Homo sapiens: one gene and its partners. Changing the gene in region 2 together with the main gene of any one other region gives a genetic interaction. Each region holds a gene or a part of one and is shown on either strand. Other genes may lie near its edges.

Region 1 (4,228 bases), on a different chromosome or scaffold from region 2:
TTTAATTCATGCACTTTTTGAAGAATTAATAGTCTTACATATGTGCATGCCATTGATCATAGGCAAAATCAGCTGAGAGCTATGGATAGCTCAGTGAAATTCTGCCATCAATAAGAGGACATGTTCTCACTGACAGGTACTATGATAGTAATGTTAACTTACAATTTGAATTCCATCCATATGGTTCGTTTGTCTTTGTCTGTATCTGATTCTTAAAGCTGCTTTGCTGAATACAAAAGAACACAAACAATTATGTTGGAAGAAGAAATCCTACATCATGACTGCATTCAGAAAGTCCTTGTGAGTCCAAGGAAATTTTTACTTCCTTTCTATTAAGGAACATATATATTACATTCATGAAGTATTTACTATTTTAAATAAAATTGGATTTTTTTTCAAACTATGTTGGTGACGTTTAATGAAATTACAGGGGTTTTTTTTTTTGGCTGTTGATTACTTGAGTTAGTGGGAGCCATAAAATGTTGGAACAACGAATGTTAGGGCACTGGTCAGTTTAGGGGAGGGAAGATTTCTGAAGTGCTAAGCGTTATTCTGTAGGCTCTTTAAAATATAACATTTCTGGAGATATGTGACTTTGTTTTTTTGTTTTGTTTTGTTTTTGACACAGAATCTCGCTCTGTCGCCCAGGCTAGAGTGCAGTGGTATGATCTCGGCTCACTGCAACCTCTGCCTCCCCGGTTCAAGCAATTTTTCTGCCTCAGCCTCCCAAGTAGCTGGGATTACAGGTGTGCACCACCACACCCAACTAATTTTTGTATTTTTATTAGAGACAGGGTTTCACCATGTTGGCCTGGCTGGTCTCAAACTCCTGACCTCAAGTGATCTGCCTGCCTCGGCCTCCCAAAGTACTGGAATTAGTCATGAGCCACTGCGCCCAGCCTGGAAATACATGACTTTGAAAATGCAGTCTCCCATTCAGCTTAGCAGTTGTAATTTATGACCCTACAAGCTCACTGAAGATAGTTTTTTGCACATCATGTTTCTCTCTGAATGTTGGTAGTTGGTATATGTCAGTGATAACAGACTGATAGAGTGAGCCAGTTACCTTCTGTTTTCACATTCAAGTTTATTTCACATTTAAGCTATCTTCCTTAAAGGCTCTTCTTTTTTCTAAATGTTTCAAATACAAATAAACAGTATAAACTTCCATTAGTTGGAGCAAAAAATTCACACGAATGAAATATCACTGTACTTACTTACTTTTTTTTAACGACAGAGTCTCACTCTGTTGCTCAGACTGGAGTGCAGTGGCATGATCTTGGCTCACTGCAACCTCCACTTCCTGGGTTCAAGCGATTCTCCTGCCCCAGCCTCCTGAGTAGCTGGGACTACAGGCGTGCACCACTGTGCCCAGCTAATTTTTGTATTTTTTTTTTAGTAGAGATGGGGTTTCACCATGTTGGCCAGGCTGGTCTTGAACTCCTGATCTTGTGATCTGCCAGCTTTGGCCTCCCAAAGTGCTGGGATTATAGGCTTGAGCCACCGCGCCCGGCCCCCTGTACTTACTTTTAAGAAACAGTGTTGTGATTAATTACTAGGCCTTAGTGACTGTAGTAGTGATTATGTCAGCTAATTTGCTTCATAGGCCCTAAGATATATTTTGCTGTGTATATGTCACGATAGACTAAAAGAGGCAGGAGCGTAGGTAAAACCTGTAGCTGGGGAAAAAAACAATATGTTAATGACATTTTGATTAAGGAGGCTTGTATTAATTGTTGACATTATTATAGAAGAACTAGTTGACAAGAAACTGCCCTGTGAAATCCAAAACATATAAAATCGGGATATACTTTAATTTGCTGATGGGTGCAACTTTACTTAAACCAACGCAAACATATTTCATTCACTAGTTTGTTTATTTATTCAAGTATTTGGATTCCTTCTATGTGGAAGGAATTTTAGGCACTGGGAATACAATAGAGAAGAAACCAAACACAGATCTTTACCATCATAGAACATACACCAGGAGAGGCAGATGATAAATAAATAAAACATATGGTATGTTAAATGATTGTAAGTGTTTAGTTTGAGTGGTAGATTTTGCAATTTATGATGGTCAGGAAACTCTTCACTAAAAAGGTAATATTTTATAGAGATTTGAAGAGGGCAAAGGAGTGTGCCAGAAGGAATCTGGGGTGGGGGACACTGTTCTGAGGTAAGATTCTGTTTAGTATCTTTGAGCAACACCAATGAATCAGAGCAGATGGAAAAGAGTAAGCAAGGGAGAGAACAACCACCTCACTCATATAGGATAGGCAGTTGTATGTAGAGTTGGCTTTTGCTATGTGTGAGACAGGAAGCCATTGGAAGATTTTGAGATGTGATCACAGCATGATTTTTTTTTTTAATAGTGTCACTCTATATGCTGTGTTGAGACTGCAGGGGAGCAAAGATGGAAACAGGGAGACCAGTTAGAGGGCTGTTGTGTTATCCCTGATGGAAGATGCTGATTGAGAATAGGGTGGTTGTAGTGAAAGTGTTGAGATGTTGCAGGATTCTGGATATGATTTGAAGGTATAGCCAGTGGAGTTTACTGATGGATTGGGATGTGGAATGTGTATGTGTGAGAGAGTAATAGAGTAACTAAAGATGATTCTAGGATTTTGGTCTGTGTAGCTATAAAACTGGAGTTGCCAATAACTAAGATGGGTAGACTGTGGGAGGGGCACCATTGAGGAATGATCAGGGGCTCACTTTTGGACATGCCAAGTTTGAGAAACTTATTAGCTATCCAAAAGGAGATGTTGAGTAGGAAGCTGGACATACTGATTTGGATTTCAGAAAAGCATCCCACACAATAAACTGGGGAACTGTCAAAATCTGCAATCCAAAATGCTCCAAAATCCAAAACTCTTGAGCATAAACATGACACTCCAAAGAAATGCTCATTGGAGCATTTTGCATTTTAGATTTTTCAGATTAGAGATGCTCAACCTGTAAGTATAATACAAATATCCCCAAATTTGAAAAAAATCCAAAATCTAAAACACTTCTGATCCCAAGTGTTTCAGATAAAGGATACTCAACCTATAGATGGTTTAAAGCAATGAGGCTTGATGAGATCATTGAGGGAGGGAGTGTTGCCAGAGAAGAGAAGTCTAAGGACTAAGTTGTGGGAATGCCAATATTTAAAGGTTAAAAAAAAAAAAAAAGAAAGAAAAGAAAGAAAGGAGACTAAAGCTAGAGAAGAAGAAGGAAAGTCAGGAAAAAGTGAAGACTTTGAGGCCAGGTAAAGAAGTATTTATTTCAAAGACGGAATATGAACTATGTCAAATTGCTGGTAGGTCAAGTAAGATAAGGGTTAGAACTTGATAATGGATTTAACAGTGGGGAGGTCATTGGTGACCTTGTCAAGGGCAGTTTTTGTGACAGGCAGAGCAGGAGGAGGGTAATGTTACAAATGAGAAGTTTAACTTGAGACATCACATATTTCCTCAGAGTTTAAAATGGAAATGGAGAGCTGGGTTCCTCTCTAGTTAGTGTGACTTTCATACCTTCACAGTTGCCCATCTTATTTTAGTGATTCCAAGACTAATGTGACAATTCAGCTTCAAATTTGGGGAAGCATGTTTGTTTCTTCTTTTTCTGTTTAATTCAATTTATATACAACGAGAAAGTTCAGTGCTCAGTTTAGACTTTTGATGGCAACCTAAGGGAAGAAATTGGAATGACTGGAGATGCAAATGAGATTAGAGGTGGGTGGCAGGAGAAAGTCGAAGTTGGTTCAACCAAATGGAATTTCCTTTAAAAAGTAAGGTCTTGGTGGGCATAATGGGCTTTTAGCTTAATCAGTAACTCTTGAAATTGCTGTAGGTTGGTGATGGATACAGCATAAGCAGAAGAGTTCATTCATTATAATATCACCTGCAGAAATTTAAAACATGATTTATATGCCTCAGCATCTATGAATCACTTTTAAAATGTGATTTATTTTTGACCAGATAGTTCTGCAGTTCTTCAAAATCTGTCTCTCATGCACTCAGGGCTGTTTAGCAATAAGAAATAAGTGTAGTCTCCTGTTGCCATCTGCTCATTCCACATGTTCCTTTGAAACCGAACACTGGGGCTTCCTTTAACCAAGCAGTCCTAAAGTGTCAGGCTCATTGAGAGTACAGTATATTTCTTAACCACCCAAATAAGAAAGTATAATCTTGTCAGCTGCTTAAGTGTTCAGAAGGTTGTGTCCCTTACAGCCCTTAAATTCTGG
Region 2 (4,228 bases):
CTGACCAACATGGAGAAACCCCATCTCTACTAAAAATACAAAAAATCAGCTGGGCGGGCATCTGTAATCCCAGCTACTCCAGAGGCTGAGGTAGGAGAATCACTTGAACCCAGGAGACGGAGGTTGCAGTGAGCCGAGATCGTGCCACTGCACTCTAGCCCGGGCGACAGTGTGAGACTTCGTCTCAAAAAAAAAAAAAAAAAAAAGATGTTGAATTGGTATAATGCACATATTCCAAAATCCAAAAAACATCTGAAATCTGAAACACTTCTGGTCCCAAACATTTTGGACAAGGGAGACTCAACCTGTACCTACTTCAAAGGGACCCAGTGAGGAGTCAGAATTGAAAATGTGTGGTATAGTGTTCTGTGCCCAGCAGGCATTTAGGGCCAGCTCTGGTTACTCCAGTCACTCCACGTGTACATTCTGGCTCTGGTCCCCAGGGGTGTAACACCCTGTACTGGCTGCAGGGGGGTGGGCAGCACGGTGTGGAGGAAGGTGAGGCGGACCTAGATCACTGTCCTCAAGAATCTAGCAAAAAGTAAACAGACCAGATCCCCAACCTTGGGAACTCTTGCTGGGGAAGAGACAGAAAACATAAAAACCATAAATAAGAGCCAGGTGCAGTGGCTCACGCCTGTAATCCCAGCACTTTGGGAGGCTGAGGCGGGTGGATCACCTGAGGTCGGGAGTTCGATACCAGCTGACGACATGGAGAAACCCCATCTCTACTAAAAGTACAAAAATTAGCCGGGAGTGGTGGCACATGCCTGTAATCCCGGCTACTCAGGAAGGCTGGGGCAGGAAAATCGCTTGAACCTGGGAGGTGGAGGTTGCAGTGAGCCAAGATTGTGCCATTGCATTCTAGCCTGGGCAACAAGAGCAAATCTCCGTCTCAAAACAAACAAAAGAACACCATAAATAAGAAAACCAGCCAGTGCGGTGGCTCCCGCCTGTAAACCCAGCACTTTGGGAGGCCGGGGCTGGCGGATTATTTGAGGTCAGGAGTTTGAGACCAGCCTGACCAACATGGAGAAACCCCGTCTCTACTAAAAATACAAAAAACTAGCCAGGCATGGTGGCGCATACCTGTAATCCCAGCTACTCCAGAGGCTGAGGCGGGAGAATAGCTTGAACCTGGGAGGCAGGAGGTTGCAGTGAGCCGAGATCGCACCATTGCACTCCAGCCTGGGCAACAAGAGCAAAACTCAGTCTTAAAAAAAAAGAAAAGAAAAATCCAGTGCAGGAAGGAAAGTACTGGAGTGGGTATTCAGGGATGGGCTCTCTGAAGTGTGACATTGGAGCTGGGGCCTGAAGGACATGACTGTGGGAGCCAGAGGGATGGTACCTGGAGTAAGAGTTCCAGGCAGAGGCGACAGCACGTGGAGAGATACTGAGGAGGGAGCCCTCTGCTTTGCCTCTGAACCTTGGTTTCCACATGTGTATAGTGAGGAGCATCTGGGTGCACTGGCCTGCAGGGTTGCTGTAGGGAGGAGGGAGGAAGGCTCTGCTCTATGCAATGCCCGGCCCCAGCCGTGTGTGGGGAAGACAGCGGGGGCTGAGAATCAGAATCAGGAGCAGGGGAGGAGAGTGGCAGACACTCCACAGACCCTGACCCAGCAGAGGTCATGGAATCTTGACTCAGATGCTGTGGGGCGGGGAGGGCCTTTGGAGGGTGGAAACCTGGAAGGAGAAGCTGCTGGAAACGCTGAGACCCCGTTGCCTCCTGGGCAGTGTCGGGGCAGCAGGAACTTTGTTACGTGGAGTTCTCCTCGTACGGCTGGCTCTGCCAAGCTACCCTTCTCCTTAAAGTGTACCCCATAGGAAATAGGGTTTCGGGAGCCTCCAGGAGAACATGGGAGGGCAGTGCCCAGGGGCCCCTCTTCCCATTGTTAGGTGGAGTGGTGGGGAGAACCCAGCTGCTACTCTCTTGATGTATGACCTTGGATGTGATTTAGCCTCTCTGGGCCTTGGCCCCGCTGAACCATGTGATCAGAGCACCAAGCCGGCCTCCCACGCTGGTCTGAGCTGCTCAAGGGCCATCTAGGTCCTCTTTGTCCCAAGCCAGAGGTCGCCTCTCCCCGGCCAAGCCGCGGCTATGGGGGTGGTGGTACAACAGAGAGCACAGGGACTTTGGAACACAACACTGGGTCATGACCCCTGCCTGGCCACTCTTGGCTGCTGACCTTGACCCTCTGTCTCCTCCTTTGTGAATGGGGGGAGTGACAGCATCTTTTGAAGGGTACAGCACAGGAGAGGTGCCAAACCAGTGAGTCAGACCCTCCTCTGACCGCTTCTTAGCTGTGTGACTTTGGACAAGCTCCTTGCCCTCTCTGTGCCTCAGCTTCCTTGTTGGTAAAATGTGGATTACATTAGCACCTACCTGGTAAAGTTGTGAAGAGGACTGAGATAATCTGTGTAAAGGTTTTAGCACATAATCTGTGCTCCAGAAATATGAATTGGGGGTATTATGGCCTCAAAGGGGGGTTAGGAGGACTAAAGGAGACCGTTGAGCTTACAGGCTGGTCCATTTTGGCTCAGTGGGAGGATGAGGTCTGGGAGTAAAGTGTACCTAATCCTTGCCTTCCCACGGCCTACCAGGAACTTCCTGCCCAATCCAGCCAGGGCAGGGAAACCAAGTAAGCCCCTTCACCTCTTTGATCTTCAGTTTCCTCCTCTGTGCTCACATCCTGGGTGGCGAGCAGTAGAGGCAACACTGATAAAGGGCCTGATGCCCTTAGTGATGCCTCTGCTGTCCCTAGTGGCTGCTCTCCCAGCAACAGGTCAGGTAGCCGCAATGGCAGCAACAGTCCCTAACCCACCGAGCATCTGCCGTGTGCCAGCCTGTTCTGCAGCTTTTATGTGCATTTTCTGGTTGAATCCCAGAACTATCCCGTAGATGGTAGAGCTGTTATCCCATTTTACATGGCAGGTAAGTGGGACAGTTGGGCTTTGAACCCAGGCAGCCAGGCTCCAGAGCCCATAAGGCCCATAAGCATCACTTCTCCTTGTCCTCACCCATGGCTGGGTTTGGGCTGCAACCAGGCTGATCTCTTCCCCGGGTCCCGTCCTCACTCCCCCAGATCAAAGAGCCAGCCGAGAAGCAAAAATTCTTCCAGGAGCTGAGCAAGAGCCTGGACGCATTCCCTGAGGATTTCTGTCGGCACAAGGTGCTGCCCCAGCTGCTGACCGCCTTCGAGTTCGGCAATGCTGGGGCCGTTGTCCTCACGCCCCTCTTCAAGGTGAGTGGAACTGTGGGGTCCAGAAGGCTGGCTGGGTGCACAGGAACTGCCAAAGAGAAGGCCCTGGGGTAGGGCAGGCTGTTTAGGGCAGACCCAAGCCCATATGAGCAGGAGCTTCCTGCCAGTGTCTATAAACAGGTACCTGACCAGCTGTCCCCTGGGGAGGAGAGACTCTGCCGCTAAAATCCTTTTTTCCACAAACCTCTGGCTTCACAACCCTCAGCCCTTCCTCCATTTCTCCGGGTCTGACCTGTGCACCTTGGTTCCCAGGGCCCAGGGGATTACCTACTCACCACCCCACTTTGCCCTCCTCCCTCCTGACTGCTTAGCACTCAGCTCACCTGACTTCTGGGGGCTGGATCTTCCACCCTTTCCTCAGACCCCAGCCCGCCTTTTTATGGGCACCTGGCATTCCCTGCCCTCCTCACCTTGGGGAGAACCCTTTCATCTGAAAGACTTGTCAGGAGGGGAGAAGACAACAAGCAAGTCCTGTATAGCTGAGAACCCCCAGAAATTGCAGGCAGAATTTCTGCATATGGCATAAAGGTACCTGTTTGTAGGGAGGGGCCCAGAGCTTTCATCAGCCTCCTGAAAGAGGCCTTGGCCCAGAAAGGTTAAGGGCAAGGCTGAGATGGAATATGGGTAGAGGAGCTACTGAGGAAATGCCTGCCCCCCCCTCCGCCATCACTTCATTCCCACCCTGGGATATCAGCCCCAGGAATTTAGATAAGCCCAGCAAAGTCAGCCCATTCCTGTGAGCAGCTGAACCCATCTTCCTGCCCTTTCAGGTGGGCAAGTTCCTGAGCGCTGAGGAGTATCAGCAGAAGATCATCCCTGTGGTGGTCAAGATGTTCTCATCCACTGACCGGGCCATGCGCATCCGCCTCCTGCAGCAGGTGAGGCCTCTGTACCAGACTCTGTGGTGGTCCACCCAGACCCCAACCTGGTGGCTGGGGAGGCACCTGCCCTGGCTGCACAGGGACCCC
Region 3 (4,228 bases), on a different chromosome or scaffold from region 2:
TTAATGCAGAATAAACAGTTTCGGAATAAAGTACTAAGAGTTCTAGTTAAAATCTACATGAACTTGGAGAAACCTGATTTCATCAATGTTTGTCAGGTAATGACATTAAATTATGTTTCATTACATTGCTCCACGCTGTACTGTGCTATGCTATACCACTTCACATTTTATTACTTTATATTACTATAATGGCTTTATACATGTATCTCAGCTGATCTTCACAGCAGCCCTGTGAAAATAAGGTATGTGCTTTATATTCCTTTTTATTAATAAGAAACTAAATCTCACAACACTAAAAAGCTATTTTGTTGTAACACATTCTTTCTTTGTATTCTTTTTTCATTTTGAAAATCCAATAATTTAAGGAAATTTTTAGAAATAACGAAGGTTTTTTAAAAAGCTAGAAGATTAAAACAGTGCCTATGCTATACTATATCATTCTAAAGAGAATTCAAAGTGTATAAATTATATATGGTTTCATTACCCATACACACCAAAACATTTGGGTATCTTTTCTTTATCTCTTTCTATATATAAATTTGCTTGCACATAAAAAAAAATTCAGATGGTACAGAAAATATATAAAATGAAAAGTAAGGCTTCTCTTTCCCATCATTTGGGCTTTTTCCCAAAGGTAAGACATAGATGTTTTTCCCTACTTATTCACACATGTGGATCTACTGCATTCTTTTAATGACTGTATTGTATTTTATTGACTGGAGGTGTGCATGGGTTTACTTTTTAACAATTGCTATGTTGTATACATTTTTTGTATTCTGCTCAGGGCATAGCATTTTATTGCACATTTTATTGTTTCTTCATTAAAATGTGCTCCTGTGTATTTTAATCCTCTAGACTTTGAAAATTTAGATTAAAACACTGTTTTTTACAATCCCTTTTAAAGCAAGTTTGAAACAAAATACTAGAAGAAAAAATATCCATGTTTAAATCACCCAAAGTCAACTTACTATTCTAACTTGATTTTTTACATCACCCAAAGTCAATTTAGTATTTAATAGTGTATTTCCTTTCAGTTTTCTCTACATAGGTTTTCGGAGTTTTGTTGTTTGTAAATATTTTTCATAGTTTTTTTTAAAACTGACATGAAAAATAGTAGTTCCCTGCCCTCTTCCTGTCTGTATTTCAGTTTTATTCCTTAGAGGCAATTTTATTTCTTTCAGCTGTTTTATTCCTTATCTTTTTATTATTTTTAAAAACTTTATTGCTCATTTTTAAAATAATATATTTTTGAGCAGATAATATGTTCATGTGATTTAAAATTCAAAAAGAATGATGGGGTATACAATGAAGTCTTCCTATTACTTGGCTCCAGCTACCAAGTTCTTTTCTCTGTGGATAAACAGTGTTAATTGTATACAGTCTTTAACATTTTTCCATGTTCTAATTCTTCATAGAGTCCTCTTACTTGATTGTTGTAATCATTCAGTGTATGTACTTTGCCCTACTTAATCATTCCCCTATTGTTGACCACTTATTTTGTTTGTGTTATTTCGTGTTCTTAATTTATAATAACTTTGATTAATGTGTTTATTTTGAAGTTGAGTTACTTGCTGCCTAAGGGAACAAGAAAATTTAAATTGAGTTTTTAAAAGAAAAATTCTAACTTTGTTGGATAATTTTGTTAAAACAATGGCAGATCATAAGAGTAGTAAGAGAAATGCTTCAAAATGGTAATTTTAATGTCTCTTGTCCTGGCCCAACACAACACAATGTATGTTAAATGAATGAGTAACTTCCATAATATATGGTAAGGGAGAAAATAACAAATTAAGGAGCACTTAGGTATAACTTATGGATAAGATTTAAAGAAGCCAAGATTCATTCAACAACCAATGTTGAATACTGCTGATTACCAGGCACAGCATTAAGAGTTATAAATATAATTTGTATGAATTTTTTTATGGAAGACAGATGCCATGTTTAGAAAAATTTCATCTAGTGCTGGGTTTAGAAATAGAGTGCTAGACTGGATAGTCTGCCCTAGTTTGCCTGTGCTTATATTTTAAGGTTTTCTATAATGTTGATTTTGTCTCCTTAAGTACCTTGTAGATGAAGTTTTTAATTATTGAATAATTGTTCTTTATCTCCATTTCAGTGCTTAATTTTCTTAGATGATCCTCAGGCTGTGAGTGATATCTTAGAGAAACTGGTAAAGGAAGACAACCTCCTGATGGCATATCAGATTTGTTTTGATTTGTATGAAAGTGCTAGCCAGCAGTTTTTGTCATCTGTAATCCAGAATCTTCGAACTGTTGGCACCCCTATTGCTTCTGTGCCTGGATCCACTAATACGGGTACTGTTCCGGGATCAGAGAAAGACAGGTATAAGTACCTTTTTCTGCATCAAAACTAATTGAATAATCTTTATTTCATTTTGGGGACAGGTAGAATATTTATAGGAAGCATATTCTAAGAATAAATTTTGCCACTAGCTTTCATAGATTGTAAAGTCTTATTAGGCTGTTGCTCTGTTTTGTACTGTGCTGGGTGTAGTAAGGAAAACCGAAGAAATTGACCCTTCTGGAAAGAAATAGAAGTGATTATCTCGTAGGGAGGGCCTACCAGACAACATGTGTACTATTTAATCAAGTAAATTTAAAAAAACAGGTGGGGATAGGTTGGGGCTACCTTTTAGATATTTGGGTTAGATATATCTGGGTTAGATATTTAGAAAGTAAAGAACATTCTCAGCTTTTTATGCTTTTATTAGAACTAAATACACAAATTTCTATAGTATTAGAAATTTGCATTCTGTACAAATTGATATGGTATTAAAATTTTATTTTTCTGTATTTTACACGTTTAGATCACTTACTAAAAACATTTGTGTGTCTTAGTTGTGCCTGTATATGCCGGCAGCCCCCTAGCCCGCTCTTTCACTGGATATCTGTGTCTGAGAAATGTGGGACTCTCTCTTTCACTTAAGCACTCAGAGGCCATTGTAGGGTTATTAATTGGCCTAATTTCAATATTGTTGTGTCTCAGGGAATAGGGAGTCCCAAGGAGAAGGAGAGAGATGGGGGAATGACCGGTGTGTGGAGCAGTCAGAACACACACATTTATTGATTGAGTTTGCTGTTTTATATGGGTGTGGTTCGTGGTGTCCCAAAACAACTACAATGGTAACATCAAAGATCACTGATGACAGATTACCATAACAGATATAACGATAATTAAAAAGTTTTAAATATTGCAAGGATAACTAAAATGTAACACAAGGACAAAGTGATCACATACTATTGGAGAAGTGGCTCCAATAGACTTCCTTGAAGGGCAGTAAAACAAAGGTATGCCTATATTTTTCTTTATATCACTACCTCTTTCCTTATTACTAAAACTATGCTAAGTCTTGCAGTCAGGTATTGTAAGACCTACAATTTTGATTCTTTTTTCTTTTTCAAGATTCTTTGGGCTATTGTAGATTTTTTGCATTATATAAGTCTGTGGGTGTTCTGATTGGGATTGTATTGAATATCTTCAATTTGGGGCACATTGAAATCCCGATAATATTGAATCTTGTAATCCAGGAATATGGTGATCTTTTTCATTTACTTAGGTTTTTTATTTTTTTCTCAGTAGTGTTTTGTAGATTCAGTGCAGAGGTTTTACACATCTTTTCTTAAATTAATGTTCTTATATCCCTAAGTATAATTTGTTTTTTGATGCTGTTGTGAAGTGGTATTTTTAAATTTCTATTTTTTTTGTTGGTAGTATATAGAAATATAATTGATTTTTATATACTAACATTGAATCCTATGACCTTGATAAAATCATTTATAGCTTTATAAATGATTTTTTTAAGTAAATTTTTTAAAGTAGATCCTTTTACAGAATTCTGTTTATTGGCATCTTGGTCATCTGCAGTTAGAGAGCATTTTACTCCTTCTTTTGTAATCTTTATACCTTTTCCCTCTCTTTTTTTTCTATATTGGCTAGAATTCCCAATACTTACAGAAGTGATAAGAGGCAGTGAAAAAAATCTTTAATTTTTTTCAATCTTAGGGGGATAGAATTTTTTATTTATTTTCGAGACAGAGTCTCAGTCTTGTCACCTAGTCTGTAGTACAGTGGCACGATCTCAGCTCACTGCATCCTCCACCTTCCTGGGTTCAAGCAATTCTCCTGCCTCAGCCTCCTGAGTAGCTGGGGCTACAGGCGCAGGCTATCATGCCCGGCTAATTTTTATATTGTTAGTAGAGACGGAGTT
Region 4 (4,228 bases), on a different chromosome or scaffold from region 2:
CTGATTTTGAACTACTGAGCTCAAGCGATCCTCCCACCTCAGCCTCCCAAAGTGCAGGGATAACAGGTGTGAGCCACTGCTCCTAGCCTGTGGTTTTTTGGAATCACATTCAGAATTTGGAGGCCAGTTCCTTCTGTATCACTTTAATTCCCAAGTTCCTTTGCCTTCTAGTCTTTACCAGTGACTACCTCAAGTATATACTCCCAGAGTCCCCTGTGCTTTCTGGTGCTGTACGTTAACCTCTGTCAGTCCAGTCCTCCTCTGGCTCCCAGGTCTGTCTGACCATCCCCCAGCCACCATCCTCCTCCCTCATCTGTGCTCATTATTCTCTGTGATCCTGCTGTAATAACTTCCTTATAGACTATTTTCTATATTTCCTTTAACAGAATTCTGTCTCTCTTTGTAGACTGTGAGTGGAGACTCTCATGTTGTTTTCTTGCCTCTTAGTAAATTCACACCATTCAGCATTCTTTGCATTTCCTGTTGCCCATTATGTGTTTCTACCAAGAGCAGAAGTGATTCTTCCTCTGGAACCTGACCGTGCCTTCTATATAGACAGTTACCACCAACGTAACAGTCCTCTTTCATGTCTAAATACTGAAATTTATTACCAGACTTAAACTTTTTTTTGAGACAGTCTCTCGCTCTGTTGCTCAGGCTGGGATGCAATGATGCAATCTCGGCTCACTGCAACCTTTGCCTCCTGGGTTCAAGCGATTCTGCCTCAGCCTCCTCATTAGCTGGGATTACAGGTGCCCACCACCACGCCCGGCCAAATTTTTTTTTTTGAGATGGAGTCTTGCTCTGTCACCCAGGCTGGAGTGCAGTGGCACGATCTCGGCTCACTGCAACCTTTGCCTCCCAGGTTCGAGCCATTCAAGCCATTCTCCTACCTCAGCCTCCTGAGTAGCTGAGATTACAGACGTGTGCCACCATAGTTGGCTGCTTTTTGTATTTTTAGTAGAGGCGGGGTTTTGTCATGTTGGCCAGGCTGGTCTCGAACTCCAGACCTCAGGTGATCCGCCCACCTCGGCCTCCCGAAGTGCTGGGATTACAGGCATGAGCCACCGTGCCCAACTCTTTTTTTAGACAGAGTCTGCCAGACGTGGTGGCTCACGCCTGTAATCCCAAAACTTTGGGAGGCCAAAGTGGGTGGGTCACCTGAGGTCAGGAGTTTGAGACCAGCCTGGCCAACATGGTAAAACCCCGTCTCTACTAAATACAAAAAAAAAATAGCCAGGCGTGATGGCACACACCTGTAATCTCAGCTACTCGGGAGGCTGAGGCAGGAGAATCACTTGAAGCCAGGAGGCAGAGGTTGCAGTGAGTCAAGATTGCACCATTGCACTCCAGCCTGGGCGACAGAGTGAGACTTCGTCTGGGGAAAAAAATAAAAAAGAGTCTTCCTCTGTTGTCCAGGCTGGAGTGCAGTGGCACGGTTGCAGCCCAACCCCCTTGCTCAAGCACTCGGTGGAGTGCGCTCAGCTTCCCGAGTAGCTGGGACTACAGATGTACAGTATCATACCTGGCTAATTTTTGTATTTTTTAAAAAATATTTATTTTTATTTCTAATATATATGCTTTTTTTTTTTTTTTTTTGAGACGCAATCTCACTCTGTCGCCCAGGCTAGAGTGCAGTGGCGCAATCTTGGTTCACGGCAACCTCCGCTTCCCGGGTTCAAGCGATTCTTCTGCCTCAGCCTCTCAAGTAGCTGGGATTACAGGCATGCGCCACTACACCCAGCTAATTTATTTTTGTATTTTTAGTAGAGACGGGGTTTCACTATATTTGCCAGGATGGTCTCAATCTCTTGACCTCATGATCCGCCCGCCTCGGCTTCCCACAGTGCTGGGATTACAGGCATGAGTCACCGTGCCCAGCCTATATATGTTTTTTGATATCAAGATATTCTTCCATTTCATTGTTCTTCAAGGTTTCATTTCCCTTCCTCCTGCCTAGACCCTGTGTTGGCAGCTTTAATTCTTCTCTCATCTATATCTTTAACTTCTTTGTTATTTGATTTTCAGATATTCTCTTTAAGATCTCTAATCCTGTGAACACAAGTGCAAAGCAGAATACTTATTTATTTATTTATTTATTTATTTATTTATTGAGACAGAGTCTTACTCGTTCTGTCACCCAGGCTGGAGAGCAGTGGTGCAGTCTTGGATCACTATAAGCTCAGCCTCCCGAGTAGTTGGGATTACGGGTGTGTGTCATCATGCTGGCTAATTTTTGGACTTTTTTTTTTAGTGGAGATGGGGCTTCATCATGTTGGCCAGATCAGGCGATCTGCCCACCTTGGCCTCCTAAAGTGCTGGGATTACAGGCGTGAGCCACTGTACCCGGCCCAGAATACTCTTGATGTTACTCACACTTAGGTAGGAGGTGTGGGATAATGAAGAAAACACACTTTGGGGTTCAGGCAGTTTTTACTTGGAGTCTTAGATAAATCTGTAACCTGAATACCCAAGTTTCTTGACTGTAGTAGGGTTAATGGTATCTAGTTTATTTTGAGAAATGTAAATTGTGTGATAGTGCCTGGAATTTATTAAGTATTCAACAAATATTTGTCATTCTGTCCCCTTCTCACCCCAATTCTGGGATTAGTGCCACAAATACAGTGCTTATTCAGGCTCTTCCAAATCGCTCTTCGCATCCAGGAAATTACTTACCTGATGAGAAAAATAGCCAAACAAGCCTAACACTCTTTAACATTTTTTCCACGTTGCATAAAGAACATGGCAAAATACCAGGATTGGCAAATGCCGGGATTTGCCCATCTTCTCCCTATTCTTATGTTTTTATCTCTGTTCTTCAAGGAAGAAATATTCTGTCTTCTATACAGTATTTTCTTTAAAATTTTTTTAAATTGTTAGCTCAAACACTGCGTTAAGGATCTTCTTTTCAGTGTTAATCCTCCACCTCCTTTGAGATACCACCTTATTACGCCTTTTCTCTACATACTCAGCCTTTCCCCTAGTGGCTCCTCTCAGTGTGAAAGCACATGTGGAGGAGAATAAAAATCATAGCATTAGATAACCTTCCATGATTCTCATGATTTTTTTTTTTTTTTTGAGAGAGACTTTTGCTCTTGTTGCCCAGGCTGGAGTACAATGGTGCGCGATCTCGGCTCATCACAACCTCCGCCTCCCAGGTTCAAGCAGTTCTCCTGCCTCAGCCTCCCGAGTAGCTGGGATTACATGCGCCACCACGCCCAGCAATTTTTTTTTTTTTTTTTTTTTTAGTAGATGTGGTGTTTCTCCATGTTGGTCAGGCGGTCTTGAACTCCCAACCTTAGGTGATCTGCCTGCCTCGGCCTCCCAAAGTCTGGGATTACAGGCGTGAGGCACCGCACCCAGCCGATTCACATATTCTACTTTTGGCTTTTACTTACTGTTATGTGAAATTTTTACAATTTATTTTTACATTAAGACATGATTTAAATTTACTATGTTCCTTAGTAAGGGTAAACATACTTTTCTTTGTATCCTAGCCAAAGCCATAAGGAAAGCAAAAGATTTTTAAAGGCTAGAATTTAGAAGATCTCATTTCCAGTGTGCTTTTCTTTGGAAAATGTTTTGTCCAGTTCTTTAAATAGCTTAGAACCAGTTTTAGGAGTTGCTGCTTCTATTAACACTTTATGAGCTCCCCAGAAGCAAGATTCTTAACCCAAAGAAAGCTGAGATTAAGAGCATAAATGCCAAGTTAATTTGAGGAATTTATGGGACTAGAACATGGGCCTTCTGATTTCTAGGTTCACTGCTACAAATGAACAGAATCTATTTCCAAATTCGTGAGTCTTATGTCAACTTGGAGTACACACTGTAGCAGTCTGCTTGGGGGACTACCTCTAGAGTTAGTTATTTCTCTTTTTTGAGAATTTGCTGAAATTTTTGTAAATTCCAACACTAGCCAACATATACCAATGTCTTCTCTTTTTCCTTTCATTTTCTCCTAATTCTACAACTTGTTTGGTATGTGGTCTGCCTTTCAAGGTATGGTAGGTGACAGTTTGACTTAATGTTTTAGTCACTGCATAATAATTCCAGCCTGCAACATCGGGATTTTTAATATCTACCCTTTTACCTCTTCCATTAAGCTAGTGCAGCATTTTTGGTTTCATTATTTCAGTACCCCTCTTTTGATCCCTGTTATTTTATTGATCAGTGTTCTTAGTTTAAGGCAACAATCCATTTTTATAGTTTAAGCAGAGAGGATGTGGAA
Region 5 (4,228 bases), on a different chromosome or scaffold from region 2:
CAGGTTCAAGTGATTCTCCTGCCTCAGTTTCCTGAGTAGCTAGGATTACCGGCGTGCACCACCACACCCAGCTGATTTTTATATTTTTAGTAGAGACAGGGTTTCAACATGTTGGCCAAGCTGGTCTCGAACTCCTGACCTCGTGATCTGCCCGCCTCAGCCTCCCAAAGTTCTGGGATTACAGACGTGAGCCACTGTGCCTGGCCAGCATTTCTTTTTTTCTGTTGGCTTCACTACATTCTGGAAGCATATGGTGTTTGGTAACAGTTACAGTAACAGTAATGGTAGTTCTGTATATATGTAGCTGTATATACATTATTTTGTGTTACTTTGATGTGGGGTAATTGGAATAAGTAGCCTGTGGAACAAAAACGTTTTTTGAAATCTTGCATTTTAATATAAGATTAGCACTGGATCCTTCTTAAACATAAGGTAGGCCTTGTATAATTAAATAACTGTACCTTATTTTATATCTTGTTTAAATGCATGTGAAATTTTTCTCTTTTTATCATTATTATTTGAGGCTACAAAATAAAATTCTACATTATTTTTTCACATTTGTAAAAAAAGCTTATTTCTCTCCTACAGAGTGGAACAGATGTGCATTCAGATTAAAGAAGTTGGAGATCGTGTCAACTACATAAAAAGATCATTACAATCATTAGATTCTCAAATTGGCCATTTGCAAGATCTTTCAGCCCTGACGGTAGATACATTAAAAACACTCACTGCCCAGAAAGCGTCGGAAGCTAGCAAAGTTCATAATGAAATCACACGAGAACTGAGCATTTCCAAACACTTGGCTCAAAACCTTATTGATGATGGTCCTGTAAGACCTTCTGTATGGAAAAAGCATGGTGTTGTAAATACACTTAGCTCCTCTCTTCCTCAAGGTGATCTTGAAAGTAATAATCCTTTTCATTGTAATATTTTAATGAAAGATGACAAAGATCCCCAGTGTAATATATTTGGTCAAGACTTACCTGCAGTACCCCAGAGAAAAGAATTTAATTTTCCAGAGGCTGGTTCCTCTTCTGGTGCCTTATTCCCAAGTGCTGTTTCCCCTCCAGAACTGCGACAGAGACTACATGGGGTAGAACTCTTAAAAATATTTAATAAAAATCAAAAATTAGGCAGTTCATCTACTAGCATACCACATCTGTCATCCCCACCAACCAAATTTTTTGTTAGTACACCATCTCAGCCAAGTTGCAAAAGCCACTTGGAAACTGGAACCAAAGATCAAGAAACTGTTTGCTCTAAAGCTACAGAAGGAGATAATACAGAATTTGGAGCATTTGTAGGTAAGTTTGGCAAATTCGTATTTGTATATCAATATTATTTACTTTTCACCTTAGAAATAATAGAAATATGTACTGTTACAAGTCATTATCTTTTCATAGAGTATAATTATAAAATTTTTAAAAAGAATCAGACACCTGTGATTCTGGTACTTTGGGAGGCTGAGTGGGGAGGATTGCTTGAGCCCAGGAGTTGAGGACCAGCCTGAGCAACATAGCAAGACCCCATCTCTACAAAAAATTTTTGGAAGTAGCCAGGCGCAGTGGCATGTGCCTGAAGTCCCAGCTACTCAGGAGGCTGAGGCAGGCGAACTGCTTGCACCCAGAAGCTGAAAGCTGCAGTGGGCTGTGATCACACAACTGCACCATAGCCTGTGTGACAGAATGAGACCCTGTCTCTAGAAATGAAATGAAAAAAAAAAAAAAATCAGAAGTAGGGGAAATAGACTGAATTAGGCTATAAGAGTTATATTGGCACATAACCTCTTTGATGGAATTTTAGGTTCTGTCTTTTGAATTTGAATATCTTCAATTGGGTTTCATCAACTCTTGTTGAAAACCTAAGTGATTCTTAAGTACTTGGAGAACCTCATAGGGGAGGTTAGAATCAACTGGAAAAGAACAGTGCCCTATAAATAGATGACCATATAATTTTTTTACCCAAACCAAGACACTTTAAAAGTGAAAGGGTGCACTATTAATAATTATATCAGAACAACAATGGAAATCTAGGAATCTACTGGGAAAATTAGTACTTATGGTGTACCTATTTATATATTCACAGAGAACATTTCAAAAAGGAATGACTTATTCTTATACCTATGATAGCTTAAATAAGATAAGAACAAAAAAAAATGTTTATTTTGGCAGTAACACATTAAAGACCTTAGTGAAAACTTTCATGCATAGAGATTATTCAGACAGTATGTTAATAAGCCCATGGAAAATTGCCACATTAAGGCCAGCCTAGGAAGTTATCTAGGCACTAAACATGTTGATATTACTTCTAGGCTATATGGGATTCACTCTAGATACATAGATATAACTTTTCCTACGTTAAATATATTCCCCCTTTTTTTTTTTTTTTTAAAAGACGGAGTCTCCCTCTGTCGCCCAGGCGGGAGTGCAGTGGCACAATCTCGGCTCGCTGCAACCTCTGCCTCCCAGATTCAAGTGATTCTCCTGCCTCAGCCTCCTGAGTAGCTGAGATTACAGGCACACGCCACCACACCTGGCTAATTTCCAATTTATTTTTAAAAATGCATTTTAGCCTATTTGTTAATGTATTACCAGTGGGGTGTATGTATATATCATATATATTTTCTCTACATGTATATTATATAGGAAAAGTTACATATCTGTATATCTAGAGTGAATTCCATATAGCCTAGCAGTAAGTATCAGCATGTTCAGTGCCTGAATAACTTGCTAGACTGGTCTTAATGTGGAGATTATACATGGGCTTATTAACATGTTGTCTGAACAATCTCTATGTGTGGAACAGTTTTCATTAAGGTCATTAAAGTGTTATTGCCAAAATATTTTTGTTCTGTTTTTGTTTAAGTTATAGGCATAAGAATAAATCATTCCTTTTTGAGTGATTATCCGTATATATGTAATGCTTTTTTTTTTATTAATAGTAAAAATGCTTGGTCCCCTTTTTTCTTTTAAATTTCGAGCTATTTATTCATATCACATGTTGGTTTGTTTTATAAGGACTTTGGCTTTTAACGTTACTGTAAACTTAACTATAATCTTGGCCAGGTGCGGTGGCTCAGGCCTGTAATCCCAGCACTTTGGGAGGCCAAGACAGGCAGATCTTGAGTTCAGGAGTTCAAGACCAGCCTGGCTAACATGGTGAAACCCTGTCTCTACTAAAAATACAAAAATTAGTCAGGCATGGTGGCACGTGCCTGTAGTCCCAGCTACTCAGGAGGCTGAGGCAGGAGAATTGCTTGAACCCGGGAGGCAGAGGTTGAAGTGAGCCAAGGTCACACCACTGCACTCCAGCCTGGGCAACAGAACGAGACTTGTTCTCAAATTTAAAAAAACAAAAAACAAAAAAAACTGTAACCTTCACCAGCTTCTTGGCAATTTTCAATTTTATTTATCAAAAGAGCTAAAGGAGACTGCAGAGCCATCAAGTGTACTTGAAAAACAGCATAAACCTATTGTTTTTATAAACTTTAAGCAGTGCCATTATTTCGGTGAAGAAAAATAAAAATTTCTCATTGCAACATCTTTTTTTCTATTAAAGGACACAGAGATAGCATGGATTTACAGAGGTTTAAAGAAACATCAAACAAGATAAAAATACTATCCGTAAGTAAATCCTTATTAAAACACCCACAGTTCTATTTATTTTACTGTCTTGATGTTTAGTTCAAAATTTAATTAAACATTTTTTCAGCAAAAATACAGTTTTAGCAGATATCATTAACATGCTGATACCAAATATTTGAAGCTGTCCTCAGTTTGAAAAAATGAACAATTGAGGAACATGAAAAGGTACAAACAGCTTGCGTAATTATACTCACTAAATAAAAAACATCAGCTATTTAACATTTCTCTCTTTTTTTTTTTTTTTTTTTTTTGAGACGGAGTCTCGCTGTCACCTGGGCTGGAGTACAGTGGTGTGATCTCCGCTTACTGCAACCTCCACCTCCCGGGTTCAAGTGATTCTCCTGCCTCAGCCTCTTGAGTAGCTGGGATTACAGGTGCGCATCACCATGCCTGGCTAATTTCTGTATTTTTAGTAGAGATGAGGTTTTACCATGTTGTCCAGGCTGGCCTCAAATTCCTGACCTCAAGCGATCCGCCTGCCTCGGCTTCCCAAGGTGCTGGGATTATAGGCGTGAGCCACTGTGCCCGGCCTACATTTCTTTTTTAAAAATTTCTTCTCCCCATATGTTTTCCACTGATTAAAT
Region 6 (4,228 bases), on a different chromosome or scaffold from region 2:
TTACTTTTACACACATTTTACATAGACAGCATGAGTTCATTTCCATCCAAATTACTCTGGAATTTCAATTCCTGTGATAGAAATTTTATGTTAACTCAAAAGAGTAATTTAATAGAACGAACCACAGAGGTATGTACTAAATGCCTTCATTTCCCTGAAGTATCTTCCATTTCCAAGGCACATATAGTGTTAACATAATCCCTCACATAATTTCACTAATTATCTTCAAGCTTTAAGCATATTTTAAAGGCCTTAAGAACAAAAAGGAGAATCTCATTTTTCAGCATTTTTATTAGCTTTTTTAACCAAAGAATTTTGTGCTAACTCCAGCTGGGCACGGTGGCTCACACCTGTAATCCCAACACTTTCGGAGACTGAGGCAGGAGGATCTCTTGAGCCCAGGAGTATTTAAATAATAATAAAAACAAACGGCTGGGCATGGTGGTTCACACCTGTAATCCCAGCACTTTGGGAGACCGAGGCAGGTTAATCATTTGAGGCCAGGAGTTCAAGACCAGCTTGGCCAACATGGTGAAACCCCGTTTCTACTAAAAATACAGAAATTAGCAGGGCGTGGTGGTGCACGCCTGTAGTCCCAGCTACTTGGAAGGCTGAGGCACAATTGCTTGAACCCAAGAGGCGGAGGTTGCAGTGAGCCAAGACTACACCACTGCACTCCAGCCTGGGCAAGAGAGCAAGACCCTGTCTCAAAAATATATATATAATATTAATAATAAAAACAAGCAAAAAAGTTAAATCCTTCACACTACATAAATTTTTTCCCCTCATGCTATGTCCTTGATAAAGATGAAGACAGTAATTATAAATTCCTAAACACAAAAATATAACACTACCAAAAGTTAATTTTTTATGGGGAAGGCTTTCTAAATAACCTTTACCAATTTGGGCTATTTGGGAGAGTAAAGGAAAGACCACACTCCACAGCGGGCTATACCAATAGTTCACTACTATTTTGTGGTCTACATTTCCTGGTGAAAAAATTAAAAACATTTTTAAAAATATAAACATGGCCAGGTGCAGAGCCTCACACCTGTAATCCCAGCACTTTGGGAGGTAGGCCAAAGCAGGAGGATCACTTGAGACCAGCCTGGGCAACATGGCAAAACCCTGTCTCTACAAAAACTACAAATTTTTTTTAATTAAATAAATAAGCAACAAACATGACAATTTAACAAACTGGGACTTACCTTTCTCATTGGTGGTGTTCCATTCTTAATTTTTAAAAGCAACTTCATTATTTTTCTCTCTTTTTGCTCTTCTGGACTAAGTGTTGATTCATCAACATCAACCTATAGTAAAAAGAAAAAAATGTTAAGGGAAGTTGAAATGTTATGATTTATAATTCTGGAACACAATTAATAGTTTATTTCTGCTAGTATCACTTACCAATAGTTTATCAAAGTATTGAATATCATCAGGTTTTAAAAATGGAAGATTTCCAGATGGCTGGTCATTAACACTTTTCATAGTTCGATCTTCAGTTTGCATGTGGAAACCAGTCATACCACCCAAAGGTGTTGGAGTAGCTGTCAGCTTTCGAGCTGGAGTTCGAATAGGAACATAACCAGCTGGAGGAGGAAGTACCTAATAAAAGTTATAAGACAGTTTAGGATTTTCTTAACTTAAAAAACAGCATAATGAACAATATTTGCACTTAAAATATTTTAGTTTATTAGCTAATAAGGTTTTTATTTGCTTGGAGACAACATCTATCTTGCTTTTCTATCTTAATTAGAAACTTAAAATATATACTTCTCATCCACTAACTGATTATATCCGTGGTGTAGGGAACTGAGGAAACACAAGAGAAGAGCTTAGAAAATACTAATCACATTCAAACATGTTGTGGGTCAAAATGTCAAATTATTAAAAATTTGAAAATTATAAAATCTGAGTCAGCAATTCCAAAAAATGCTGTAGTCGAGCAAATAATGTTTCATAAGATTTATATAAAATGGAAATAAGCTCATATGGGGCATAAAACATAAAAAATTATATTTTAGTATTAAAATGTCACATAAATTCTTGCACTACAAAATCTTTTAAGTGTAAAACTCTACAAAAATTAGTTAAATGCATAAAAACTAAAACCAAAATGTTTGCCAAAGCCCTATAAAATACACACCACCTGATCAAACCTTTTGCAAAACGAGTAAAATTTCAAAAAATGCAGGCTGAAAATCACAAAGAAATTTTTTTTTTTTTTTTTAAAGCTGGTAACAGACTTCAAAAAAAAAAAACAACTTCTGGACAGGCCAGGATTACAGCACTTTGGGAGGCTGAGATGGGAGGAACGCTTGAGCCCAGGAGTTTGAGACCAGCCTTGGCAACATGGCAAGACCCCATCTCTATTTTATATAATTTAATATATAGTAAAAGAAAAAAAATACAACTTCTTGGAGAGGTCAATAAACCTATACACGTCTTCTCCAGTGAGCCTAAAATTGTTTTGTCTATTAAAGATTAAATTATGTTAAATTTATATTGATGCTATCTGTACTTTGCACAGATATTTTTTGTTGCTAGTTAACGTCTGCACCAGCACAGACCACTAAGCATTTTGGATAAAGTGGATACTCTAAAGATGTGAGGCCTAGAGAAATCAATGTCAAGTCCACAGGCATCACTTGCCATTAAGGATTTAAAGGTCTACTATATTTTTATATTCACTAGTAAGGACGTTGCTTATTAGTAGGATTCACTAAGGGAGACTTTTCCTCCTAGTGACACTAAGGAAATCAATGACTACGACTGAGAAAGACATGCAGGCAGTCAACAGTAAGTTCTGTCTATCTATACCCACAGTTCTATCTATACCCACAGCATTATGTGGAGGCTACAAAAAGCTTTAAGGCAAAACTTCATGCAAACTTGAAACAAATACTCTAACACAAATAACAGGGGATCAAAAACAAAACAAGGCTGGACACAGTGGCTCATGCCTATAATCCCCAGCAGTGTGGGAGGCCAATGTGGGTACTTTGAGCCTAGGAGTTTGAGACCAGCCTGGCAACACAGTGAGACTCCCGTATCTACAAAAAATAAAAAAATTAGCCAGGTATGGTAGTGCATGCCTGTAGCCCCAGCTACTCAGGAGGCTGAGGCAGGAGGATCACTTGAGCCCAGGAGTCCAAGGCTGCAGTGAGCTATGTCAGCGCCACTGCTCTCCAGTACGGGCAACACAGTGAGACCCTGTCTCTAAAACAAAACAAAACAACAAAAAACATACTCATGAACTGTTAAAAATCAATAGTCATTAACAGAAAAAGCTCTGTAAAGGCCATCAGATGACTTACAAAGTTATCTGGTTCCCCCTGGTTATGATGTCAGCTATACGACCACAGACTATCTTCAGACTAACAAATACTCCCTGAGTACCAGGTACCTAGAAAATTTTATAGTTCAAAATAAATTTTAGGTTGATATGATAAAAAGGCCAGGCACGGTAACTCACGCCTGTAATCCCAGCACTTTGGGAGGCTGAGAGGGACGGATCACTTGAGGTCAGGAGTTCAAGATCAGCCTGGCCAGCATGGCGAAACCCTGTCTCTACTAGAAATACAAAGATGAGCCGGGCATGGTGGTGGACACCTGTAATCCCAGGTACCTGGGAAACTCAGGCAAGAGAATCGCTTAAACCTGGGAGGCGGAGGTTGCAATGAGCCGAAATCACGCCACTGCACTTCAGCCTGGGCAACAGAGTGAGACTCCATCTTTTAAAAAAAAAAAAAAAAAAAAATTCTTTGTGTCCACTGACAATCCATAAACTTAAGTATATAAAATCTTGGTGAAGCACCAAGTAAAATAACCACAATCTCAACGAGCTTATTCCTGGGACTGCTAGAAAACTGAAGCACCAGCAGTTCTCAAAGTATAACCGATAGACCCATACACAAGTCTTTGAGATGTCTTTCAAAAAGTAATAAAAGTTTCATGTTGTTCATTTCTTTTCATCTCTATATGGAACTGAAATATACCTGGAAATAGCTAAGAGAATGGAATGACAATAGTAAATTTGGGCAAAGCCAATGCAAGCTTAATCAATTTTTTTCACTATTTAAAATAAATGTATATCCTAAATACCACCTCATTCAAATTTGATGTACTACCTTATATCCTTCTGGGAACATAGCATCTAATTCCTCATCAGAAAGTGGGCGATTTCTCTCATCAATTTCTCTTTCCCACCGCCAAGCCTGAAGCTGTT
Region 7 (4,228 bases), on a different chromosome or scaffold from region 2:
CTTCCTGGGGTGGTGTCAGCGCGGGATGAGATCAGGCACCCCCCGTGTAGGGTACCCCCAGCAGAGGCCACTCGGGCTACGGAGGATCAGGGCTGGGACTCAGACCTCCAACCCTGCCGGAGAAGCCACCTGTCCCCAGTGTACAGGGGCCTGTCTGTCATGCTCACCCTGTGTGGGCTGCGCTGGGCCTCCCACTGTGCGTCCTGACTCACATTGGTTCCCACAGCTATCAAGCCCAGAGAGAGACGTGGAGAGGGACGTCTTCCTGTATAGAGCGTACCTGGCGCAGGTGAGTGCGGGCCTTGGCCGGGGGCAAGAGTGATGAACAGAGTAGAGGGTGGGGCTGGGGACAGGAAGGCACCACAGAGTGGGTGGCGGGGACAGTAAACAAAGCAGGGACCCAGGCCTGCAGTGTTCAGTGACTGTGAACAGCCAGCGCAGCCAGCATGTGAAGGTGGCTGTGTCACGGAGGCCTGAGACTGCCAGGCCAGGGGGCCTGGGTCACAGCTTCTTGATTTTTTTTTTTTTTTTTTTGAGACGGAGTCTCACTCTGTCGTACTCGATCTCAGCTCACTGCAACCTCCGTCTCCTGGGTTCAAGTGATTCTCCTGTCTCAGCCTCCCAAGTAGCTGGGACTACAGGCGTGCGCCACCACGCCTGGCTAATTTTTATATTTTTAATAAACACGTGGTTTCACCACATTAGCCAGGGTGGTCTTGAACTCCTGACTTCATGATCCACCTGCCTCAGCCTCCCAAAGTGCTGAGATTACAGGCGTGAGCCAACGCGCCCAGCCGATTTTTTTTTTTTTCCTAAAATAATTGGTAGGAGCCAGGCACAGTGGCTCACACCTGTAATCTTTGGGAGGCTGAGGTGGGAGGATCACTTGAAGCCAGGAGTTCAAGACCAGCCTGGGCAACATAGTGAGACCCCCGTCTCTACAAAAAAAAATTAAAAAATAAGACAGTCATGGTGGCATGTGCCTGGAGTCCCAGCTAATTGGGAGGCTGTGGCAGGAGGATCAGTTGAGCCCAGGAGGTCAAGATTACAGTGAGCCGTGATCACGCCATTGCACTCCAGCCTGGACAACATAGCAAGACCTTGTCTCTAAAAAAATAAGAATGGGGGCTGGGCCCGGTGGTTCACGCCTGTAATCCCAGCACTTTGGGAGGCCAAGGCGGGCAGATCACCTGAGGTCAGGAGTTCGAGACCAGCCTCAACATGGAGAAACCCTGTCTCTACTAAAAATACAGAATTAGCCAGGTGTGGTGGTGCATGCCTGTAATCCCAGCTACTTGGGAGGCTGAGGCAGGAGAATTACTTGAACCTGGGAGGCAGAGGTTTCGGTGAGCTGAGGTCACAGCATTACACTCCAGCCTGGGCACCAAGAGCGAAACTCCATCTCAAAAAAAAAAAAAAAAGGCCGGGCGTGGTGGCTCACACCTGTAATCCCAGCATTTTGGGAGGCCAAGGTGGGTGGATCACAAGGTCAGGAGATTGAGACCATCCTGGCTAACACAGTGAAACCCCGTCTCTACTAAAAATACAAAAAAATTAGCCGGGCGTGGTGGCGGGCGCCTGTAGTCTCAGCTACTCGGGAGGCTGAGGCAGGAGAATGGTGTGAACCTGGGAGGTGGAGCTTGCAGTGAGCCGAGATCACGCCACTGCACTCCAGCCTGGGCGACAGAGCGAGACTCCGTCTCGAAAAAAAAAAAAATGGGGAAGGAACCATCTAGGAGGGAACACAATGAGGGACGGGCCCCCAGCTGCAGATGTGACAGTGGTATCAGTCTGGGCATCCTCAGAGGGCCAGTAGGTGGGCAGGGCTGGCTGGGGGCATGTCCTGCTTTATAGAAGCGCATGTCACAACCCCCATAACTGCTGCTGCCCTGCCCCCAGGTGACACGCCCTTCACCTCACCACCAGAGGTGGACAGCTGCCAGGGGATAGACAGTAACCTACCAGGGTCCCTAGCTCAAGGCATGGGCAGTGTGGCCCTGCAGATGAGGGCACACCTGGCTGCTCACGACAGGTGACGCCATGCCACCCTCCACAGTGTACTGCAGTGGAGGTGGCCCATGCTGGGCTGAGGGGTCCCTGGTGGGGCAGGGACTTCCTGTCTGGGGCTCTCCCTGCCAAGCTGAAGACATGGAAATCCTCTGGGGTGGACGGGTGCAGCTGACGCCTCGTCCCTACTGCAGAGGAAGTTCGGTGTGGTCCTGGATGAGATCAAGCCCTCCTCGGCCCCTGAGCTCCAGGCCGTGCGCATGTTTGCTGACTACCTCGCCCACGAGAGTCGGAGGTGAGGCCCCAGAGAATGGGTTGGCCTGAGGCGCGGGGCCATCTTCAAGGCCTGTTGGTTATGAACCTGGGTGGGTGGGGGCATGGCGTGCAGCGCACAGCATCCCTCAGATTAGGCGCCTCTCCCCTCTGCTCCCCTGCTGCTTTGTGCCTCAGTTTCCCTCACCTGCACAGCAGTGGGGGGCTGGTGATGGATCCTGCTTCAAAGGGGAGGGTCAGAGACAGTGCTGTGTGTGCACACGCCCTCATGGACCACAAGGCACTCTCTGAACCTAGAACTGAAAATATCAATTACCGAGCAGCCCTCTGCAACACCCAGAGCCCCAAGACAGCCCAGGGCGCAGCGGGGGCAGGGCCCTCCCATCAGTTTTCTTATTTATTTATTTAGAGATGGAGTCTCACTCTGTCACCAGGCTGGAGTTGCAGTGGTGAGATCTCGGCTCACTGCAACCTCTGCCTCCTGGGTTCAAGTGATTCTTGTGCCTCAGCCTCCTGAGTAGCTACGACTATAGCTGCGTGCCACCACGTCCAGCTAATTTTTGTATTTTAGCAGAGACTGGGTTTCACCGTGTTGCCCAGGGTGGTCTCGAACTCCTGAGCTCAGGCGGTCTGCCCACCTCAGCCTCCCAAATCCTATCAGTTTTCTAGTCCCAGCTAGTTGGGGACTGCAACCTGCCAGTATCTCCCCTGGAGCCCAGTGGGAGGGTGGGTGAGGCCACGCCTGTCCTGCCCCTGAGCCACAGGCCAGCGTTGGTCAAACGCCCATGGGCGGCAGCCAAGGGGAGAGGGGGCTGGGCTGTGGGGACCCAGGAACCTTGCCCCCTCCTGCTGTGGGGTCGGAGTGAGGGTCTGGCATGGGGAGACTGCTGTGATCCTGCTCTTCCTTGGCCCACGGAGGCAGTGTCCCAACTACCGCCTCCCTTCACTCAAAGAAACCTGGGGTTCCTGGGAGCTGACTCCTGTGCAGAGGCAGCATGGTGGGGTGAATGGTGTCCCCCAAAAGGTACGTCCATATCCTATCCCACATGCTTGTGAATATGATATCATTTGGAAAAAGGGTCTTTGCCGATCAGATTAAGAGATAAGGAGATGAAGACATGCTGGATTTAGGGTGGGCCCCAAAGCCAAGGACTTGTGTCCTTTTAAGAGATAAAAGGAGGGCTGGGTGCAGTGGCTCATACTTGTAATCCCAGCACTTTGGGAGGACGAGGTGGGCAGATCACCTGAGGTCAGGAGTTTTCAAGACCAGCCTGGCCAACGTGGTGAAACCCCATTTCTATTAAAAATACAGAATTAACAGGATGTGATGTCTGTGATTCCAGCTACTTGGGAGGCTGAGGCAGGAGAATCGCTTGAACCTGGCAGGCAGAGGTTGCAGTGAGCCAAGATCGCACTAGTGCACTCCAGCCTGGGTGACAGCGGGAGACTGTCTTAAAAAAAAAAAAAAAAAAAGGAAAGAGGCCCACAGAGTTAAGCCCATGTGACAACAGACTGGAGTGACATGTCTGCTAGCCAAGGAGCACCACGAGTGGCCAGCAGCCACCAGAGCTGGGAGAGAGGCCTGGGACGGCCTTGCCCTCCAGCCTCCAGCTGGAGCCAGCCCTGCCGCCACCTTGACTTCAGACTTACGGCCTCCAGAGCTGTGAGGAACGAATCCCTGTTGTCCTTAACTGCCCGGGCTGTGGTGCTTTGCCACAGCAGCTCCAGGACATTGAGACAGGTGACCTCCCAGGGCCACTGTTTCTCCCACCCTGCACTTACTTCACCAGCTGGAGTGAAGGCAGGGAACCCTGGGTCCCCCAGGAGCAGCAGCTGCTGTGAGCATCACAGAAAAGCAGCCCCGGAGAGCAGGCGGTCCAGGCAGGGGCTTGTGGTCCGTTCATCTGGCTGCACAGCCGCGACCTCATTGGCAGGACGCCCCGGGGAC

The links.
Region 1: changes in SCYL1 (region 2) and WDR7 together harm fitness more than expected from each alone (negative genetic interaction), as found in Homo sapiens cells (one large-scale study listed by BioGRID).
Region 3: changes in SCYL1 (region 2) and PSMD1 together harm fitness more than expected from each alone (negative genetic interaction), as found in Homo sapiens cells (one large-scale study listed by BioGRID).
Region 4: changes in SCYL1 (region 2) and METAP2 together harm fitness more than expected from each alone (negative genetic interaction), as found in Homo sapiens cells (one large-scale study listed by BioGRID).
Region 5: changes in SCYL1 (region 2) and TRPM7 together harm fitness more than expected from each alone (negative genetic interaction), as found in Homo sapiens cells (one large-scale study listed by BioGRID).
Region 6: changes in SCYL1 (region 2) and SF3B1 together harm fitness more than expected from each alone (negative genetic interaction), as found in Homo sapiens cells (one large-scale study listed by BioGRID).
Region 7: changes in SCYL1 (region 2) and COPE together harm fitness more than expected from each alone (negative genetic interaction), as found in Homo sapiens cells (one large-scale study listed by BioGRID).

Annotation. Positions count from the first base shown.
Region 1 is NC_000018.10:56,657,501-56,661,728, forward strand, and holds part of WDR7 (WD repeat-containing protein 7), read left to right. Parts: intron 1-4,228.
Region 2 is NC_000011.10:65,527,546-65,531,773, forward strand, and holds part of SCYL1 (N-terminal kinase-like protein), read left to right. Parts: intron 1-3,083; coding exon 3,084-3,242; intron 3,243-4,030; coding exon 4,031-4,138; intron 4,139-4,228. UniProt on the Homo sapiens protein: Regulates COPI-mediated retrograde protein traffic at the interface between the Golgi apparatus and the endoplasmic reticulum. Involved in the maintenance of the Golgi apparatus morphology.
Region 3 is NC_000002.12:231,070,073-231,074,300, forward strand, and holds part of PSMD1 (26S proteasome non-ATPase regulatory subunit 1), read left to right. Parts: coding exon 1-96; intron 97-2,116; coding exon 2,117-2,343; intron 2,344-4,228. UniProt on the Homo sapiens protein: Component of the 26S proteasome, a multiprotein complex involved in the ATP-dependent degradation of ubiquitinated proteins.
Region 4 is NC_000012.12:95,504,716-95,508,943, forward strand, and holds part of METAP2 (methionine aminopeptidase 2), read left to right. Parts: intron 1-4,228. UniProt on the Homo sapiens protein: Cotranslationally removes the N-terminal methionine from nascent proteins. The N-terminal methionine is often cleaved when the second residue in the primary sequence is small and uncharged (Met-Ala-, Cys, Gly, Pro, Ser, Thr, or Val).
Region 5 is NC_000015.10:50,588,987-50,593,214, reverse strand, and holds part of TRPM7 (transient receptor potential cation channel subfamily M member 7), read left to right. Parts: intron 1-588; coding exon 589-1,304; intron 1,305-3,558; coding exon 3,559-3,623; intron 3,624-4,228. UniProt on the Homo sapiens protein: Bifunctional protein that combines an ion channel with an intrinsic kinase domain, enabling it to modulate cellular functions either by conducting ions through the pore or by phosphorylating downstream proteins via its kinase domain.
Region 6 is NC_000002.12:197,403,868-197,408,095, forward strand, and holds part of SF3B1 (splicing factor 3B subunit 1), read right to left. Parts: coding exon 4,131-4,228; intron 1,606-4,130; coding exon 1,408-1,605; intron 1,311-1,407; coding exon 1,209-1,310; intron 988-1,208; exon of another isoform or gene 851-987; intron 1-850. UniProt on the Homo sapiens protein: Component of the 17S U2 SnRNP complex of the spliceosome, a large ribonucleoprotein complex that removes introns from transcribed pre-mRNAs.
Region 7 is NC_000019.10:18,909,045-18,913,272, reverse strand, and holds part of COPE (coatomer subunit epsilon), read left to right. Parts: intron 1-226; coding exon 227-289; intron 290-2,201; coding exon 2,202-2,302; intron 2,303-4,228. UniProt on the Homo sapiens protein: The coatomer is a cytosolic protein complex that binds to dilysine motifs and reversibly associates with Golgi non-clathrin-coated vesicles, which further mediate biosynthetic protein transport from the ER, via the Golgi up to the trans Golgi network.